3 linked regions of the Homo sapiens genome follow. The protein of the gene in region 3 interacts with the protein of the main gene of each other region in a biochemical or structural test. Each region holds a gene or a part of one and is shown on either strand. Other genes may lie near its edges.

What was found.
Region 1: the proteins of ID3 (region 3) and SREBF1 form a complex in vitro, tested with the Homo sapiens proteins (one study listed by BioGRID).
Region 2: the proteins of ID3 (region 3) and PDLIM5 form a complex in vitro, tested with the Homo sapiens proteins (one study listed by IntAct).

The regions. Positions count from the first base shown.
Region 1 is NC_000017.11:17,819,496-17,827,473, forward strand, and holds part of SREBF1 (sterol regulatory element-binding protein 1), read right to left. Parts: intron 4,136-7,978; exon of another isoform or gene 4,113-4,135; coding exon of another isoform or gene 4,023-4,112; intron 1,027-4,022; coding exon 595-1,026; intron 231-594; coding exon 43-230; intron 1-42.
Region 2 is NC_000004.12:94,664,450-94,669,209, reverse strand, and holds the end of PDLIM5 (PDZ and LIM domain protein 5), read right to left. Parts: 3' UTR 3,186-4,760; coding exon of another isoform or gene 3,184-3,185; 3' UTR 987-3,183; downstream 1-986. UniProt on the Homo sapiens protein: May play an important role in the heart development by scaffolding PKC to the Z-disk region. May play a role in the regulation of cardiomyocyte expansion. Isoforms lacking the LIM domains may negatively modulate the scaffolding activity of isoform 1.
Region 3 is NC_000001.11:23,556,834-23,564,291, forward strand, and holds ID3 (DNA-binding protein inhibitor ID-3), read right to left. Parts: upstream 2,669-7,458; 5' UTR 2,594-2,668; coding exon 2,294-2,593; intron 2,187-2,293; coding exon 2,127-2,186; 3' UTR 2,102-2,126; intron 1,583-2,101; 3' UTR 1,093-1,582; downstream 1-1,092. UniProt on the Homo sapiens protein: Transcriptional regulator (lacking a basic DNA binding domain) which negatively regulates the basic helix-loop-helix (bHLH) transcription factors by forming heterodimers and inhibiting their DNA binding and transcriptional activity.

The sequences.
Region 1 (7,978 bases), on a different chromosome or scaffold from region 3:
CTGGGGCTGCCCCCTCCCCAACCCCTGGCCAGACCCCCTCACCGGGACCTGCTGGATCTGCGAGGTCACAGTGGTCGTTACAGGGGCTGCCGTGGGGGCAGCTGTGACTGTCAGTAGCTGCTGGGGGACCACACTCTGGACCTGGGTGTGCAAGGAGACGGGCGGGACCCCTGGCGGGGAAGCCAGTGGCAGGCCAGGCAGCGGCTGCTGGGTGTTCCCGGGAGGGCTTCCTGCAGAAATAAAGCATGGGGCTGCAGACACAGACCTCCCTCTCCCACTTTCAACCTGCTCTTCAGGTCTCTATCACCGACTGGCCTTGGATGAGTCATTGCCCCATGTGGCTTCCTATGGACAGTCCCTGCCTGGGCTCTGATGCAAATGCACTGGCTTCAAGCCAGGCCTCCAGTGCGAGGTTGCGCCTACCCCGGCAACAAGCACACCAGGACTGCTAGTAACAGGGCATCTCAAGCAGCCGAGTGGAGCCCCAGTTTCTAAAGCCTGCACAGACCTCTACTCACATCACAGCAGAAGCTTCTTCCTGTGCTCCTGGAAGCCCCACCCCGGGTGTCCCCTCCCGCCACACATCCCCCTTACCTGTAGAGAAGCCTCCCGGAGGGCTGGGGTAGCCTAACACAGGGGTGGAGCTGAACTGCGGTGGGGCTGGGGCTGGGAAGCTCTGTGGCAGGAGGGCCCCTGGCAGGGGCTGTGGGGTGGGGGTCTGCAGGATGCTCAGTGGCACTGACTCTTCCTTGATACCAGGCCCAGGGGAGAAAGCGGGCATGGACGGGTACATCTTCAATGGAGTGGGTGCAGGCTGGGGAGGGGACAGGGGTGAGGGCGCTGCCTGCGGCCCGCTCAGGAAGGCTTCAAGAGAGGAGCTCAATGTGGCAGGAGGTGGAGACAAGCTGCCTGGGGAGCTGGTATCGGGGCTGGCAGGGTCTGTGCCCCCTGCCCCACTCCCAGCATAGGGTGGGTCAAATAGGCCAGGGAAGTCACTGTCTTGGTTGTTGATAAGCTGAAGCATGTCTGTGAAAAGGAGAAGAGGGTGCGTGAGTGAGGCAGAGACTGACCCCCAAACAGGGCATCACACACATCCAAACACAACCTTATTTGCACAACCCTTGTTGGCACACAGCTGTATGTGTGGGCAATGCCACCAGGACAGAAAGCCACCCACAGGAGCTGGTGTTCCCGGACATACAGCCATTTTGCGAGCACCTGTGCTGTCTAAAGCAATGCCTGCTGCTGCGAGTGCATCACAATACCTGGACAAGGTGGGCACCACAAGGCTCACAATCTTGCCCCACAGCTAGGCTGGGGCTGAGCCCAGGGTCGGGCCCAAGACTGCAGACTTCAGAGCCTGAGCTCTTCCCACCATCCGGTATTTGCCCAAACATCTAGAAACATCCTTAGTCCACAGCAAACAGCAGGCTCACATTCATTCACTCATCCAGTGAGCATGTGCTGAGTGCTGAGTGCCCACACTATGCCAGGCACTGCTCCCGGCTGTGAATAAGGGAAATCCCTGCCTAGAACTAAGCAACTTTCTGGGGAGCTGGGAGTGTCCTGTAGCTTGATGTGGATGGTGGTAAACTTTTACTCCTGTCTTCATGGGGCATGCATTCTACAAGACATCCACCTCTGAGTCCACACACATACACACACACACACACACACACATACACACTGCACCGTGGACTCAGACCAGCTTCCAAGCATTTGCCCATGAGGTGACCAACCCTTCCAGACAGCTCTCCTGCCCTCTCCACAGTCCATCACCCCCAACCCCACACAGAACAAAAGGAATCCAGAGGCCCAGGTGCAGCCTTCCCTGGCTCCACTTGGGGCCTGTTTCTCAATGTGTGAAACGGGGGGCACGCCTCCATCCACAGATCCAGCAGCTCCAGTCTTTGGGATGGAGATGGGGATGGGGAGGGAGGAGCAGTCTAGGGCAGAGGGGGTCTTCATATAGGAGCGATGGGCCCCACACCCCACCATTGGCCACTCCTGGTCTCATCCTAAAACGCACCCCCAGCAGGATCCTCTGGGCACTGAATTTGACAAAGCAACTTAGAAACTGCTGAGGAGTGGGTGATTTTCCCCTCCCCTCAGTTTACAGGGGGAAGAGGGGTGCAGAGAGAGGCAGGATTGCCTTGAGGCCCTGAAGAAGTGGTGGGATCCTCTGTGACCAAGGACCAACTGTGCAGCCTGGGCCCACTCTTCCTAGGGCAGCGCAGGATCCCCAAAGAGAATGGCAGACAGGGAAGTCCCCCAAGAGGACCCCAGATCAGAGCAGGGTCCTCATCCACACTAGAAGGACTCTAAGGGTGGGGGCCCATGTCAGAAGGGTGGGTCTGGTCCAAAAGCCAGGCCCGCTGTGGGGCTACCCACATTGATGGGGCCAGGCTAGACCCCTAATCCTCACCCACAGCTGAGAGGGTGATGTGATCATTGGCCCCATTCTACACGTGAAGAAACTGAGCTGTAGAGAGGTGACTTACTGGCCTAAGTTCTTATAGAGTCAGAGACTCAACTGAGTCCAGACCCTATTTTGACTCCAATGCCCCAACCACTGGCCACTACCCTAGACTACCTCAAAAGATTAGCTCACCTCATCTTGGAGACAAGAAAAGACACTGAGGCTCAGGGAGGACCACAAGCAGCCCAAGAGCATGCAGTGGGGTTCAAACCCAGGTCTACAAAATCCCAAATCTATTGTCTCTCTGCCTTTTCTTGCCCCACTAAGAAGCCAAGAGCCAGGCTGCCATCACCAACCCATTACTCAGTGGAACAGACCAAGGCTTAGGGCCAAGCCAGCTGCTGGCCACATGGCCAACCAGTGTGTCTCTGTGTAGAGTTCTGGGCTCAAGTCCAGGCTTTGCCTGCAGCCAAGTAGCCTCAAGACCCAGGCCTGGCCACTCAGGGCTTTGATTTCATCTCTGTAAAAGCAAGTGCTGTCTGTCCTGACTCCTTCCTCCTCATACAGACTGGGACACACTCCCACCTCAGCCCCACCTGGCCAAGGGCCCTCTCCCCCAGCTGGTGACTAGCAGCCTATCTGGCTCAGCCCAGGGCCCTCTAACCCACTCGTGGTGGCACCCACTGGGTCAGAATGCTCTACAGGACCCATGGGGGCCTCCAGTGCTCTCAGGATCCCCAGCCTGAGCTCCCAGCCCTGCCCACCACCAGCTTGAAGTGGAGCCTGGACCAACAGCCTCCTCTCACTGGCCCCAGTTTCCTCATCTGTACAACAGAAAAGACTAAACCCCTTTTGGTACGGCTGCCCGAGGCTTTGCTTGGCAGGCAGCTGGCACCGAGTGGAGACCCAACATTGCCTACTGACAGGTACCCAGGCAGGGAAGCTACTGCAGGAGGGGAATTTCCTAGAGCAGTTGGCAGAACAGGATGGGGTGGCAGCCCCAGTCTTCCTGGCTTCTCAAGTAGAAACTCTCCTGGTTTGTGGACCCCCCAGGTCACAAGTCATCAAGTCATAATGGACTTTCAACTGCAGGGTTTCCCATCCCTTTACCCCAGTCCGTGTGAGCCTCTTCGATAGATGGGGGAAACTGAGGCCTGAAAGAAAAACTGACAATTTTGACAATCTAGGGCTCCCACTGTCTTCCTGAAAAGTCTAAGATGCCCACAATAGGCAGGGGTGCTGAATAGGGCAGACGCTGTGGCAGAGGGACAACGGGCCCTCCTCCCTGCTTCCTCCTGGTCCTGTCCCAAAGCGGGTGCAGAGAATGTAGAGAAGACCACCCTCTCCCTCCAAACCCTCTTAGGTCGGGATGCTGCTTTTGGGTCTCTAAGCAAACCCTTCCCCCTTGAGTTGCAGGGGACACTAATTTGGTTGGAGGTAGCCCTCCACTTCCCCAGCGAGCTGGTAACTGTCACACCTTCTCCCTCGGGAAGGGGCTCTTTCCTGCTCAAGTTGCGTAGCCCGCATGCCCGCCCACCCCAGGAGAACCTGCAGGAGACGGAGGCATTGTATAAAGGGCTGGTGGGGAGGCCTCCAAAAATACCTTCGAAAGTGCAATCCATGGCTCCGCGATCTGCGCCCGCCCTTGGGGCGTCCAGGCCGTTGGCCCTACCCCTCCCCGCGCCGACTTCACCTGTCAAGGCGCGGCGGATTTTTGAAGCCGTTGAGCGCTGCGGCGCGCCCGCCCCGCCCCGCCCCGCCCCCAGCCCCGCCCCAGCCCCGCCCCGCCTGCAGGTCCCGCCCCGCCCCGCCCTTCGGGGCTGCGGGCCGGGCATGGGGTGAGCGCGCGCGGCCAATCAGCGGCCGCGCTGCCGCCTCGCTAGGGCCCGGCCCCGGCCCCCGCCCCACCTCCCCACGGCGGCGGGGGCTCGAGTTTCACCCCGCGGCGCTGAATGGGGTTGGGGTTACTAGCGGACGTCCGCCTTTAACCCGCTCGGTGCCAGCGTCTGCCGGGGTTACTGGCGGTCACTGGCCCTCAGCTCCCGCCCCCTTCGTTAAAGGGTCAAAGCAGAGAAGTCCTGGCCCAACACACCAGAACTCTGTGTTCGAAATCACTGGTTCGCTGGCACCCTGAGCGAGCCTTAACCGCTCCAACCCTCCGTTTACTCCTCCAGAAAACAGGACAGTCATTATCTCCCTGGCGTCGAATGGTAGAAGGGAGATAATATGGGTGCAGCACTTAGTACGCAAGAAGCGTTTAATTAAGGCCAAGGGCTGCCGAGTGGCAGCTGCGGTGGGTGCAGGGACCTCCCCCTTCTAGGGCAGCCCCAGGAAGGGGCCACCCCTCACCACAGCGGGGCTGATGGTCTGGGATGAGGCCACTCCTGAAAACAGGTCACTTCCGGGAAACTGAGGCCTGGAAATAAGGGTTTCCTGACTGCCAGCACCGATGTCCCTCTGCCAGATGGGTGAAGTCTGCCCCTCCCCCTCAAGGCCTCACAACCCAGCAGTCACCAAGTGAGTCCCGACCCACTATTCATTGTAGGGCCCTGGGAAGCCAGGAAGGGCTGCAGTCCCTAGGACAGAAGATGGGTAAGGAAGGGGTGACAGGCTCTAGGGTTCTTTTGAGGAGGTGCCTGGGCCTGTCTTCCCTCTTTTGTCAAAGGTAAAAGTTACACACACACACACACACAAAGTGATCAGAGCCTGGCCAGTTGATTTTGCAGCCAAGTAGACCACCAGCAAAGCCTGCCTCTGCCCCAAACTGCAGGCCAGCGCCTCTGCCTGGTCCACACCCCAGTTGGCTGCAACCTGAGAGGGTGCCTGAACCCTGGGCAGACCCAGCGACTCAGCAGTCCATTGGGGGCTGGGGTCCCTGCGGCCTCAACCTTGCTCTCTATTCAGGACCCTAAGCAAGAAAACCCAGCCATGTCTCTCTCGCAACCTGTCCTCGCCACCGCCGTCCAGCCCAGGCCCTTATTTCCCAGCTTTGGGAGGTTCAAGGACAACAGACGGCCTCTCTAGCATGGCCCAACCCTCCCCTCAGCCCGCGGGTGTTCCCTCACCCCCAAAACAAAACACAGCATTGCTCTTGGCAAAGGCTCTGACATGAGTGACTTAAGACAGGGAAGCGTCCTTGACCCAAAAGCACACTGAGAGCTGAACTCCAGGCATGAGTTCCCCATGGCCTCCCAGCCTGGTTCTTTCATTACTTTGCTCCCCAGTTTCTGAGCCTAGAATGTGGTGAGACCAACAAGCAGATACTAGCCTGAGACAGCAGGGCCAGGGCCACTGTGAACAGTCAAGCCTGTCCCCTCCCCTTACCCATCTTGGCTTTACCACATATTCCTGCCTCTTATTGTGTCTTTATTTGTCTCATCTTCCTGCTCTAACCCCCTCCCATCCCACTGAGGAAGCGCGATGGGAGAGGGCGGTTGCTCTCTGAGCCCCAGGGGCAGCAGAGTCATTAAAGACTCTGATGGGGGTGGGGCGGGGGGGGCCTTCCAAGAGGAGGGGGTGTGACCTGGGAACAGAGGGCTGGCCCTTGGGCAGAGGGCACAGACTAAGCTAAGATGCCCCGAGGAAGGGGGAAGGGCCTGGGTGCCACTGGCCATGGCCAGCCTCTGAAACTCAAGGCCTGGCCAAACCCTGGCTCACTCTCCCCTGGGGCTGATCTACTGGCCAATTTCTTTTTTTTTTTTTTTTTTTTTTGAGACAGAGTCTGGCTCTGTCACCCAGGCTGGAGTGCAGTGACACGATCTCAGCTCACTGCAACCTCTACCTCCCGGGTTCAAGTGACTCTCCTGCCTCAGCCTCCTGAGTAGCTGGGATTACAGGTGTGCGCCACCACACCTGTAATGAAATGTAATTTTTGTATTTTTAGTAGAGACAGGGTTTCACCACGTTGGCCAGGCTGGTCTCGAACTCCTGACCTCAGGTGATCCTCCCACCTCGGCCTCCCAATGTGTTGCGATTACAGGCATGAGTCACCGTGCCAATTTCTGTGGAAGCTGGTCACCAGGTTAAGACTGAAAAAGGAAACTCTAGAGCCAGCCCTGCAGCCTCCCTCAGAGACACACCCAAGTGGGCTATCTGGGGCTGCATGCCAGGCCCTGCTCTTCCTTTAGCCCCTCCCTTGCTGTGTGATGGGGACAGTCCACTCCCCACCCTCTGAGCTCCCACACCTACGATCTCCAGAGGTGGGAATTCTGGGAAAGCAAGTGTGTAAAACATCCATCACTCAACAGTCTCAACAAAGGTTAGTTCTCTCTACAGCAATTAGAATGGTTTAGAACTGGAAAGTCAGGTAGTGAGTTGCCTGATACTTGCAGTATTCACGTTGGAGCTCCATTACCATTCGACTGAGTCTTTTTTTTTTTTTTTTTAAGGGGAGTTAACGGGGCCAGTCTAGAGTAAGGCAGCTGAGGCACCTTGGGTGCACAATTTAAGGAAGAGCCTCTCTTGCCTCCCCTAGTCCCTGTCCTGGAAGCTGGGAGAGCTGGTCTCTAGGGGCTCACTGTGGCACCCAAATTGCGGCCCACCCATGGGTGAACCGGGCTTCCCTATGAACACTGAGAAGGCCCTTGTGGTTCCCACACACACTCTGAACACAGGAAGGAAGAGGAGGCATAGACTCTGGGCCATGGTGGCCCCAACTGCTCCCTAGTTCACCTTCCCCAGGCTTGTGAAGCCCTGCCACCCCTCCCCAAGCCTGGGTTCCTCCTCTTCCCTCTTCTTCTTCCTCTCCTGCCCTGATTCTATCAGGACCCAACAGGAAACCTGAACCCCCACCTGGCATCCCTCCCCAGTTCTACCTTCAAACCTCTCTCTGAAGGCAGATGCAGGCGCCCTTTAATGACTCTGGCCGATGTATTCTGTGAGGCCATGAGGGAAATCCTGGGCAGGCCTCATGGCATGCGCTTGTAGGGCCCAACGCTGACCAGCACAGAAGCCTACAACCCAAACAAGGCCTTGAACCCCAAACAACCTCCTGGAAGAGGGAGCTCTTCACCTGCCCCCACAGCCTTGTCCACAGAACCCAGATCCATCTCTGACAATATCTACTGTGTGCCAATCCTGTGCCAGGCACTGGGGCCATTATAGATGAGGTGGTCAGGGCAGCCCATCTTAGGAGGTGACATCTGAAAGGAGGACTGAATGATATGAGGGAGTGGGCCGGAAGGGAGGGCAGAAGAAACAGTGTGTGCAAAGGCCCTGCAGTGGGCGTGGGCAGGATAGGAGGAGCGGAGGCAGTGAGGGGGTGGAGGCCAGGACGGCCACCAAGGAGCTGGGATTCCAACTCAGGTTGGTCTGTCATCTGAGCCAAGGACCCCAATTCTCCAGGGAATGGGTGGGAAAGGGATTTGCCAATTGATCCCTGCACTACAGACCACAAAGCTGCACCAACTGTGAAGAAGGGTCAGCCACAGGGGAGGATGTGGCACAGGTGCTCATGGGATTCCAGAGCACACCCTCTCGGCCTGCTAATGGAGGCAGCAGGGTGAGGATGGGTGCCCACCATCCCTCCAGGGAGCTGGGCTGCACCCCACCTGCTGTTCT
Region 2 (4,760 bases), on a different chromosome or scaffold from region 3:
TACATCAGTACCTATGTGTTTCTGATATAACCAAGATCTTGTCTGAGCATACCCAAAAAGGGAAACCGCCAATCCAAATTAAGCTTTTGCTGGCAAAAGGATTTTATATGTAGTTCTGTAAGAAAACCTTTGATAATCTTATATTGGGGACATTTCGACTAGAAAACACTGAACGACAGGGAGGCTTGCTCTGGTTTGAGCACTGAATGGGGATTTATTGTGAACACACGGTTGAGACTTAAGCCTATAAATCTTGTACTGGATTACTGTTTCTTAACGAAGGAATGACAGATCTCTTATTTTGTCGGTGCATTTTAATGTGCAATGACGTGATTGATAGAAACCAAACAGCAGCTATTAAAATGTCAGATGCAGACTTGATGCTCTTAAAAGTTTGGCTTCTGGAGTTTAATATACTGTGAGCAAATAGACTTGAATTTCTCTTTTATTCCCAACATAGAGCGTGCAACAGAAACATCTGTCTTAACTTTATACAGTTGGAAAAATATCTTAAACTAATAAACAAATGAGGCAGAGGTGAGCCTACCTAGTTGTGGAATAGTCAGTTAATGAGATTGAGATGAGTTAAGCATCCCAATATCTAATGCAAAATGTGGAAATATGGATGATGATTTATGTTCTTTGATTATGTTCTAATATGATGTTTGATATGACAGGTTGTTCCAATAAATCATTTCAGCAATAAATATTTTCAAAAGACAATAGACCTTATTTATCTATTAATTCATAAACATTGGGTACATTCTACATGCACGGCATAAGAACAGAGAGAAATACAATAAATGTGACAGTATTTTCAAATATTTTGTTTCTGAGACATTTTGATAAGCAAATATCATACTAGAAGGGTTCTTCTGAGAATTATTACATCCTATCCTAACCTGTGAATATGGAACTTGATTATTTTCCCATGATGACTTGATGGAAACCACTCGCCAACCAACAACAACAAAAAGGAGAGCTCATTTACAACAATGCAGTCATTTATTTATTGAGTATGTGCACATTATGGTATTATTACTATACTGATTATATTTATCATGTGACTTCTAATTAGAAAATGTATCCAAAAGCAAAACAGCAGATATACAAAATTAAAGAGACAGAAGATAGACATTAACAGATAAGGCAACTTATACATTGAGAATCCAAATCCAATACATTTAAACATTTGGGAAATGAGGGGGACAAATGGAAGCCAGATCAAATTTGTGTAAAACTATTCAGTATGTTTCCCTTGCTTCATGTCTGAGAAGGCTCTCCCTTCAATGGGGATGACAAACTCCAAATGCCACACAAATGTTAACAGAATACTAGATTCACACTGGAACGGGGGTAAAGAAGAAATTATTTTCTATAAAAGGGCTCCTAATGTAGTACTGCTTGAAAATGGTACATTTTTGTTGTAGATTATTTTAAACATAATGCTATAGTAATATTTTGAAGATTTGAGCTGTTATTTCCATTTGTTTTTACACTGTGACTAAATGATTAGGTTTTAGTTTTAGACTCTAAACGGAACCTGAATTAATAGGAAATAAACACGGTACTATAGTTGTCCTATGGTGCCCCTATGGGTGATGGGTTCCAAGAACCCCCTAGGATACTAAAGTCCATGATGTTCAAGTCCCTTATAGAAAATGGTGTAGTATTTGCATATAACCTATGCACATCCTACCATACACTTTAAATCATCTCTAGATTACCTATAATAGCTAATACAATGTAAATGCTTTGTAAATAGTTGTTATACTATATTGTTTAATGACAAAAAAAAGTTTGTACATGTTCAGCAAAGGCGCAACCATCCATTTTTTTCCCCAAATATTTTTGACCCACAGTGGGCTGAATCACAGATGCGAAGCCTATGGACATGGAGGGCCAACTGGACAAGCATAAGCAGGGGATACTTTTTAGGTTGCTACTTCAGCAGGCAACATTCAGACCATGGAAGTCTAGAGAAAGATTATAAATCTGAACTTACCGCTAAAAATTTTAAAATGGGAAATAAATCCAAGGAGTTTTTAGTCATGCATTATGATTTTAATCTATGTTATGCCAAGTACAGCATTCCAAAATATACATCTAGAGACTAAAAGTAAATGCTCTATAGTGAAGAAGTAATAATTAAAAAATGCTACTAATATAGAAAATTTATAATCAGAAAAATAAATATTCAGGGAGCTCACCAGAAGAATAAAGTGCTCTGCCAGTTATTAAAGGATTACTGCTGGTGAATTAAATATGGCATTCCCCAAGGGAAACAGAGAGATTCTTCTGGATTATGTTCAATATTTATTTCACAGGATTAACTGTTTTAGGAACAGATATAAAGCTTCGCCACGGAAGAGATGGACAAAGCACAAAGACAACATGATACCTTAGGAAGCAACACTACCCTTTCAGGCATAAAATTTGGAGAAATGCAACATTATGCTTCATGAATAATATGTAGAAAGAAGGTCTGATGAAAATGACATCCTTAATGTAAGATAACTTTATAAGAAATCTGGGTCAAATAAAATTCTTTGAAGAAAACATCCAAATGTCATTGACTTATCAAATACTATCTTGGCATATAACCTATGAAGGCAAAACTAAACAAACAAACAAAAAGCTCACACCAAACAAAACCATCAACTTATTTTGTATTCTATAACATACAAGACTGTAAAGATGTGACAGTGTACATTATATGACAATGCACATTAGCCAGCAAGTCTTTTATAGGTGGTTTCAGCAGCAACGATAAATAATGCAGAATTCAGCTCCAGCACTTTATTTCAAAAGAAATTTCCTGCCTCCCTCCAAGATGCAGGGTGAGGAGGTAGCTTGGGGTTGCTATTGGAGAAGTATTCAGTTTGCTACTTTGTGTCACCCCTTGCCATTCTTTTATCCCCAGTTAATTATTATCTGCATATAATATAAATCTGCTAGACCATAAATTAACAGCTTTCAGGACAGATGCCTTGAAAGTTCTTAGGGAGGTTAAACAAATATTGTAGCCTAAAACCTCCTCTATAACAAACATGCACACAATGGAAGTGATGTCGTAAGTGAGTGATGGGGCAGGAAGGACCTAGGGCTCTGTCTCGACTATAAAATCACCTTGCCCCAAACAAATTTAAATTATAACTTAGGAGGTTCATGGACTTTCATCCATTCTGGAAACAAAGAGAAAAACCAAATCAAATACCAGAATCTGTTTTCTCACTGGGCAAATAGCAACAGGATCCACAGTTTTACCACAATTGTTTCCCTGTCTCCATGTGGTATCTACATAATTCTTTTCCCAAAGGAGGAAATCAAATAACAGGCCAATCTGAGTAATTAAACTCCCCTCCCAACACTACCCAACCTCTGTGAATAAAAGCTTTCCAAACTTTGTGATCACATTTGAAATTGGTTCACTTATTATTGAGAGAAAACCACAAAAAGTCTCAATTTCATCACATCCTCAAACCAATCTTTTAATTTTTAAATGCAGAAGAAGAAACAAAACGAAACAAAAAGATCATTCTGCAAAGAGACCTCTCAACTCTTCATCAGCCAGTGGCATAACTCAGAAACTGATTTAACTAATTTATTATTTGAGAAAAGGGGATTGAAAAACAATTGGGGGGTATAATCTTCTGATTCACAATTCCCAGCCACATTCTTTTCTATTTATTCTCTCTCTCTCTTTTTTTTTTTTTTTTTTTTTTTTTAAGAGCCGGAGTCTTGCTCTGTCACCAGGCTGGAGTGCAGTGGTGTGATCTCAGCTCACTGCAACTTCCGTCTCCTGGGTTCAAGAATTTTCCTGCCTCAGCCTCCCAAGTACATGGGACTACAGGCACGCCCCACCATGCCCAGCTCATTTTTGTATTTTTAGTAGAGACAGGGTTTCACCATGTTGGCCAGGATGATCTTGATCTCTTGACCTCATGATCCGCCCGTCTTGGCCTCCCAAAGTGCTGGGATCACAGGCGTGAGCCACCACACCTGGCCCTCTATTTATTCTCTTTAAAGAGAGAGAAAACTATGAGAGGCCAAAATTATTTAATTAAATCTTTACCTTAGCACAAGGGAAAAAAATGGAATTTGCCTAATATAGGTGATGAAGCATACACAATGAATAGAAACAATCACATTTTAGTAAAAGGCAAAAATTTGAGACTTATAAGCTATATGGTAGCTTATTTTTGGGTGGGGAAGAAATGAGAAAAGAATATAACATCTCTTACTGGCATGACACATTTTGATAAAAAATCTTATTGTCCTTTCCTACTAGAATGATCCACTGTAAGGCAAAAATAATATACAAGCAAAGTTTTTTTTTGGAGACAGAGTCTCACTCTGTCACCCAGGCTGGAGTGCAGTGGTACGATCTTGGCTCACTGCAACCTCTCCCTCCCGGGTTCAAGTGATTCTCGTGCCTCAGCCTCTTGAGTAGCTGGGATTACAGGCGCGTGCCACTGCGTCCGGCTAATTTTTGTATTTTTAGTAGAGATGGGGTTTCACCATGTTGGCCAGGCTGATCTCAAACTCCTGACCTCATGTGGTCCACCCACCTTGGCCTCCCAAAGTGCTGGGATTACAGGCGTGAGCCACCGCGCTCAGCCTACAAGCAATTTTTTAAAAACTGACACCTATTACTGATAAAATTCTCTGTTTAAAATCCTATTTACTATTTTAAAGATAAGTATTAGTTTTTTTTTAAATACAATAATTCTGTTATTGATAAAATTTAAGGCATTTTC
Region 3 (7,458 bases):
CTAAAGGTGATGACGTGACCTGTTTGTTATGAAATATTGAAGTAATTCATGCCAGGGACCAACACACAGATGAGATCATACCATAAACAGGAATCTCTAGTAAGGCCAGGCACCTGGTGAAGCCCACCTGGGGAGCCACCAGGGGTGTGGGGGAAGGCATGGGTTGGGATCTTGCTCTCTGCCCCACTGCCAGGCCTGGCCTCAAGGAATGGCCAGTCCCCAGCCCTGCTCCTGTTCACCACAATCAAGTCACGGTTCAAATCCCATCTCTACCTCTCAAAGGCTGTGAAAACCTGGTTCAGAAGCATTACCCACAGAGGTTCCCTTTCCCCATTTCTGAAATAGGGATAGGGATGCTTACAGAATAGGTTCCCAATGGAGGTGATGTAGAAATACCAGCAGAAATGAGGACTGTGGAGTCTCTGCCTCACATTCCTTGTTCAGGGTCGGACTCCACAACCACCTAGCATTAAAGAAGGGATTACTATCAGTACTTCCCAACCAGCATCCAAATCTTTATCCATTTCAGGAGACCTCCCTCTTTTTTCCAACTTTGGAAGCCCGCAAGGAAGCCAGCCCAGAGAGCAAGAAGGAAATGAAACCAGGCCCAGTTATCAGTTTATTCATTTTTGGAATTGGTCTATCAACCACCACCCATGCCTGGGCACCAGGTGAAGCAAACTTGAGGCTCTCCTCTTACCACATCCCCTGCTAGAAAGGCATAGTCAATAGTAACAATAAAGAGGAAAGCTACTGCTAGATCTCAAGGGACATGAAAACTCAGTTTTCAAGTTGCCTGAGCCACCAACTTTCAAGTTGCCTGAGCCACCAACTTGCTGGGCAAGCTTGCACCAGTCTCTGGTTTCATCTCTGAAATAATGAGCAGAGCCCAGAACTTTTCTCTGCACCCATCCCTCAATGGACATGAGACTCCCATCATGAACCCTTCTCTCTCCACCCCATCCCCTCTCAACCAGGCAGTTTTTCATTTCCCTCTCGTAGAATAAGCAAGTTCACTTTCCCAAAGCTCCCAAAATTCGGCCATGTGCGAGAAAGCATCATTAGTACTTAATGGAGACGGGTGTCATCATATACACAAGTGTTTAAAAATCGTTTATTATGCAAAATGTTAACTTTTATAAAAAGTTTAATATACATCGCATTGTTACAGAAAGTCACCTTCCTGTAAAAAAGGTACAAAACCTATATACTCTATTATAGAGTTCATAAATCAGGGCAACAGAACCTTTCTCCAAGGAGACCAGAAGACCAGCTCTGCCGCCGCCTTGGCATAGTTTGGAGAGCAGCCACTCCTTCCACACCTCCACGCTCTGAAGAGACCTTAGAACTTGGGGGTGGGGTGGGAGCAGGGTGACGTCGCCCAGCTGGTGGCCAGAGCTAGCTCTGGCTCTTCAGGCCACAAGTTCACAGTCCTTCGCTCCTGAGCACCAGGTTTAGTCTCCAGGAAGGGATTTGGTGAAGTCAAGTGGGCAGGGCGAAGTTGGGGCCCATCCCTGCCGTCCGGCTTCCGGCAGGAGAGGTTCCCGGGGTCCCAGGCAGAACGGGCGCCAGCACCTGCGTTCTGGGCGGGGGAGGAAAGAAGACCAAGGAGCAGTCAGTTTCCGCCGAGCGTGCCGAGGCGGGGGCCGTCCGCAGACTGGCCGGCGCCAGGGAGGAAACTTGGTCTGTACCTCCAGCTGATAACTCCGCGCCCCACGCTGCCCCCACCCAGTTGGCGCCAAAGACCACAGGCGGAGCTTGCGCTACCCCTCCTACTTGGAATTGACACTAGCTGGGAGGGGGCTGCCGAAGACAGCTCCCTATACAACATGGAACAGAAAGACTTGTATTTAGTCGGACCCATGTCTACTTTGCCAGACCCTCGGCCACTGCGGGAGGGCAGGGCCCAGGCGCATTTAAGGCTTAAATGCACATCACATGGAAACTGACTCTGCCATTCATTTGATGCAACCATGGGCAAGTCACTTGTCCCTCTCTGGCCTCAGTTTCCCTAAACCGAGTGAGTGGCAATTTTTCAAAACGTCTGCCAACTCCAGGACTTGCCGTTTAAACCTCCCTCTCCAAGAGAGGAGATACTCACCTGGAGGTGTCAGGACACGGCCGAGTCAGTGGCAAAAGCTCCTTTTGTCGTTGGAGATGACAAGTTCCGGAGTGAGCTCGGCTGTCTGATTAGAGGAAAAGAGGGAAGAGTTACGCGAGGCAATCGGGAGCTCCGAGGGTCCCGCAGCATCCTTGCCTGGGTGTTCAGCCCTGTCCCGACTTCGAGGCTTACCTGGATGGGAAGGTGGGGGCCATCAGGGGGTCCAGGGGCTGGCTCGGCCAGGACTACCTGCAGGTCGAGAATGTAGTCGATGACGCGCTGTAGGATTTCCACCTGGCTAAGCTGAGTGCCTCTCGGGACTCCGGGTACCAGTTCCCGCAGGCGGGAGTAGCAGTGGTTCATGTCGTCCAGCAAGCTCAGCGGCTCCTCAGCTGCCGGGCCCTTCCCTCGGCCCCGGGCGATGGCCAGACTGCGTTCCGACAGGCAGCACACCGCCTCGTAGCAGCCGCGCACCGGGCTCAGCGCCTTCATGCTGGGGAGTGAGTCCAGAGGTGCCCCAAAGAGAAAGAAAACCAAAAGAAGTCCCGCTACAGTGACCTGCAACGCGCGCACGCTCGCCGCGGCGGTCACTTATAGAGCCTGCCTGGAAGGCACGCCTCTTTATTCAAAATGGCCCGCCTCGGCCCTGCCCCCGCCGGCCCTGGGCGTTCACAGCCCGCTTAAATTGCAAACAGGCTTCCTCCGGCTGGTCTGACGCCGAAGACCGCGGAGCCGCGGATTCAAAGAATGAGGAAGCGCTGATACCGGGGAGAGGCGGGCCTCTCCGCCAGCAAGGATTTAAAAATCACTCAAAACCATTAACTTCCAGAATTTGCTTTTTCCTGGCAGCACCCCAGATCTTTGAGCTTCCCTGCCCCCTGCCAGTCCGCCTTTAGCCCAACACTGGTTCGAGCCACAGCTCCTCCGAGGTCATAAATCCCTGAACAGCAAAGAAGCTCCCCCCACCCCCCGTTTTTTTTAAGCGAAAGATTTTTCAAGGGAAACTTGTAAGGAATTAGTGCCGCCTTGTTCCCCAATTTGCTGTTCGTCTGACCTCCAGACTCACTGGCGTCAGGAATTATCTTGTGACCAGAGGGAAAAAAAATTAATTGCGGTGAAGCTGAGGTTACAATGAAGAAAACAGATTTGCGCTAGGCGCTGAGATTGCAGAAGGAGGAGGGAAAGGGGGTTTGAGCAAAGAACACTATTTATTTGAGCAACAGGGGAAAAGAAGAAAGCTTGAGCCCATGCTTTTTGCATGGGGAAAAAAGGAGCCTGGACCCTCTGCCCCATAAACTCCATAACGAACTAAATATATGCACAGTTGTGCTTTGTGAGTTCAATTAGAATTTTGGACAAGGTTTTAAATATGGAGGCACAGATGGGACAATTTCTACATAAACCTTTTTAAGAGCCCCCCCCCACCCAATTGGGTCAGCAAATTTCTTAACTTCCCCTCTCTTCACTTTCCACACACCTCTGTGTAGAAAACAGTGGTAATTTCATTGCTCTATTGTCTGTCCCTTTCTGCTATGGAAGGGCAGGCCACCTGGACTTGATTATTCTTAGCCCTGCTGAAGTAGCTCCAGCTCCATCTGAAAGACCAGGAAAGGAACCAGAGGGCCGGCAAACTAAGTCCTGTATTGCAACAGGACACTGTGCTCAGTATTCTTTGATTCTTTGCTTGCCTTCTTGTCACCTCCCTAGACATTTGGGGACCTGCACTTCCAAGATGCTGCTTTCCATTTTGGAAATGACCAAGTGGGATTCCCCCAATAGTTGCTTTCCTAATGAATCATTGGTGAATATTTATGGAGTCCCTCCGCATAAAACAGTGGCTCCTGCTTTCAAGAATCTCACAATTTGGGGAGACAAGATTAACACAGGAAACAAGAGTTCGATAATGTGTGGCACTGATTAACAGGACAAGGGGGGCTCAGAGCCAAAGAGAGTCGCAAAACGGTTGAAAAGGACACTGACTGGGAATTGAGAGCCCTGGGTTCATCATGCTAGCCCTGACAATAATTTGTCATGTAATCTTGAACAAGCCCAGGTACTCTGGCTTTAATTGCCTTGTGAGTAAAATAGACGATGGTACTAAGTGATTATTTAAAATCCTTTCCAATTGTAGAAGTCCAAGGTTGTGTGAAATTTGGATATGTAGGTGAAAGATGCTGAGGGGCCCAAGGAAGGCATTTAAGACATGCCCAATGTCACACTACAAGTAATAGCAGAGCCAGTCTTGAAGCCTCGTTCTTTTCCATCAAACCACAGGGCTCTGTGGCCCAAGAAAGATTTCTTCCTGGAATGTTTTTTTCAAGGACAGGCTCTTCAGTAAGAAAAGAGGAAGAAAACCTGTGAGTGGGCAAGTCAGTCTTTACATGCTACAGCCGTCAAGTGCCAGCTATTTGGTCAGGAAAGGCAAAATAATGGCTGTAGGAACTCCTGAATAACCGAAGAGAAGATCCTTCTTTTCCTATCTTGCAGACTTCTGTGGCAAAACGGTCAAGTCCAGAGGGTTCTAGAAAAATCACGGGCCAGGCAGATTTCTGTGCAAATGCCCATTCTTCTTCTTCTTCTTCTTTTTTTGTTTAAACTAATTGTGTAGACTTTGGCTGAGTTATCCTGGGTGCTTCTATTTTCCCATCTATAAAATGGAACTAATTGGGTCTACTCATTCATTCATTCGATAATTATTGAATGCCTCTTCTCTGCAAAGCACTTGATGTGTTCACTCCATCTGATCTTAGTCTTCTTACTGCCTGGGGGACCCAGCATGGGCCAGTTGTGTGGAAGGTGCTCAGTCTACCCAGATTCTCCTCCCTTCTTTTCCTTCCTCTACTACTGCAGCTGATGCCTCAGGCTTGTATAGTGATTTAGGTTTGCAAAGCACCTTCGCATTTATTATTTCCCAGGATGCTTCCAGGCTGAAATGCCCATGGGCTGTGTGACATAAGGCAGAAGGATGCTGTGGAATTAGCAAGCAAAATTCTGTTCTGTGCATGCCAATAATTTGCAGTGTGCCCTTGGACGAATTTCCTCCCTTCCTGGGCTTCATTTTCTCTTTAAAAAAAAAAAAAAAAAAAAGATAGTGGGTAGGTTGGGAGGAAGCAAGTGCCCTTTAATGGTCCTCTCTAGCCTAAGATTCTAATTCTGAAAGAAGCAGGTTATGGTTAGGAACACTGAATAGTGTTTAAACCCAAGAGACTTCTTTTTCCCCACAGCAGACTGGACAGGCTAGCTCAGGCCTTCTGCAACTTGTTTAGCAGTGGTGGGGCCTCAGCCTCTTATTCCAAATGCCTCTGAACTTTCTGTTCCCAGTTCTGCTCCTTTTACCAGCTTTTTCCCCCCTCTTGCATTTTTTATTTTTATGAAAGGATGTCATTAAGGCTTTTGTCTGCGCTGTTTTTGTTTCAGAACTTTTCTCACAATCCTATTTTTTGTTGAGGAATCCGCTCCTTTGCCCAGCTGTGGGTCCCGGTCCCACAGCTGTGTTGATCTAAGACTCAGCCCCAGACAGCCTGGCGCCAGGGTGGGACGTCATGCGTTCACACAGGGATGCGTGTCCCAGGCAACCTTTCCTCGGGCAGTCACCGGCCGGCGACTGCCTCCCCCACCAATGAGCGCCGGACACCCGAGAAAGGGGCGGGGTCTGCATCGCCCCAACCGCGAGCGGCTTGTGAATTGCAGATGCTGAGAACTTGATAATGTTGCTTCAATTGGGGCCCTTTAAAGTCTTTTTTTTTCTTTCTCTTTTAGTTCTTTATTTTCTTTTGTCTATTCCCTTTCTTTCCACCTTCTTCCTTTATCTATATATGTGTATAATTTTTCTTCTTCTTTTTTCTAACTATCTCCTCCCAGTGTCAGGAATCATTTTGTAAGCATTTCCAGGAACTCAATCTTCCTCTGCCAAAATAAAAAAAAGAAAAAAAAATTCAATGTTGTGCTCTCTGATTTTTTTTTTTTTGAGAAGTTGGCAGAACTCTTTAAGTTATACTGTTTTGTTTTTTAAAAAATTTTAGAATTTTTTAATTTCGTGGTAGTGGGCTCTCTAAATTGTTGATTTCAAAGTCAAAGTAATGATGACAAGGATTGCAGATGCCTTTTTGTCTAAGCTGAGCCTCTATTTATTATCTATCTATCATCTTTTTCCCATTTATGTCCCAGACATGGGGATCATGGGGACCTCAGAAACTTGCTCACGTTTACTTGGGATGTCAGTAGCTGGCCTATGGCCAGAACCCAGACCTCCTCTCATTTGACTCTCTGTCCACTCTGCCCTCTCTCTCTTTTTTTTTTTTGGGATGGAGTCTCACTCCGTCGCCCAGGGTGGAGTGCAGTGTTGTGATCTCGGCTCACCGCAACCTCCACCTCCTGGGTTCAAACGATTCTTCTGTCTCAGTCTCCTGAGTAGCTGGGACTACAGGCGCACGCCACCACACCCGGCTAATTTTTGTATTTTTAGTAGAGACAGGGTTTCACCATATTGGTCAGGCTGGTCTCGAACTCCTGACCTCATGATCCGCCCGACTTGGTCTCCCAAAGTGCTGGGATTACAGGTGTGAGCCACCGCGCCCGGCACTCTTAATAGCATTAGGGTGGTCTTAGAACATTCCCAAATGCCACATTTCATAATATGTATCTCCTTGCTCATAAGTGCCTAGAAGGTGTGGTGAGGACTTTGCAGTCACACACATAGAACATCCCTTCTCCTTCTCCTCCCCTCAGAGAGTCTGGAGCCCAAAGTATTGCTTGAGATTCAGGTGATACAAGGAAAGCACAGGGGATTCAGAATCAAGACCAGGCTCAATCCTTGCCCTGACTTCTCCTACCTTCACTCTGTCTCAGCTGTCTCTTCTATTAAATTGGGAGGAAAATACCATCCATCTACCTCACAGCTGGGAGAGTCAAAGGGGACAAGGGATGGAAAATGGTGTGGGAAACAGTTATTTTTATGTGCTGTAATGTGATGTAGCCCCTGTTGAGTGGGATAGGTGGTACCAAGTGAGTTGAGTGGTCCCTGCTGAGGCTGTTGTCAGGAATGTGAGGAGCATCAGGATCTAAGGCATGAGTCCTTACAGGGGTGGGGATTTCAAAGGCCTCCAGGATGGGCTACTCTCTAACTCAGAAGCACTCAGCGCCACCGCCACCATCATCATTCATTGAGTTCTGTTTGCCAAGTCCTGTTTGCCTTCTTACACATTTTCCCGCTGATCCCTTTTATAGACAGAGAGACAGTGGCTCAGAAAGGTGAATGTGCTTGCCCAAGGTCACATAGCTAGATAAGTGGCAGGTCCAAGATTTGCACCCAGGTCTGCCTGTCTCCCAAAGCCTGTATCCTCCTGCACCTATGCTTC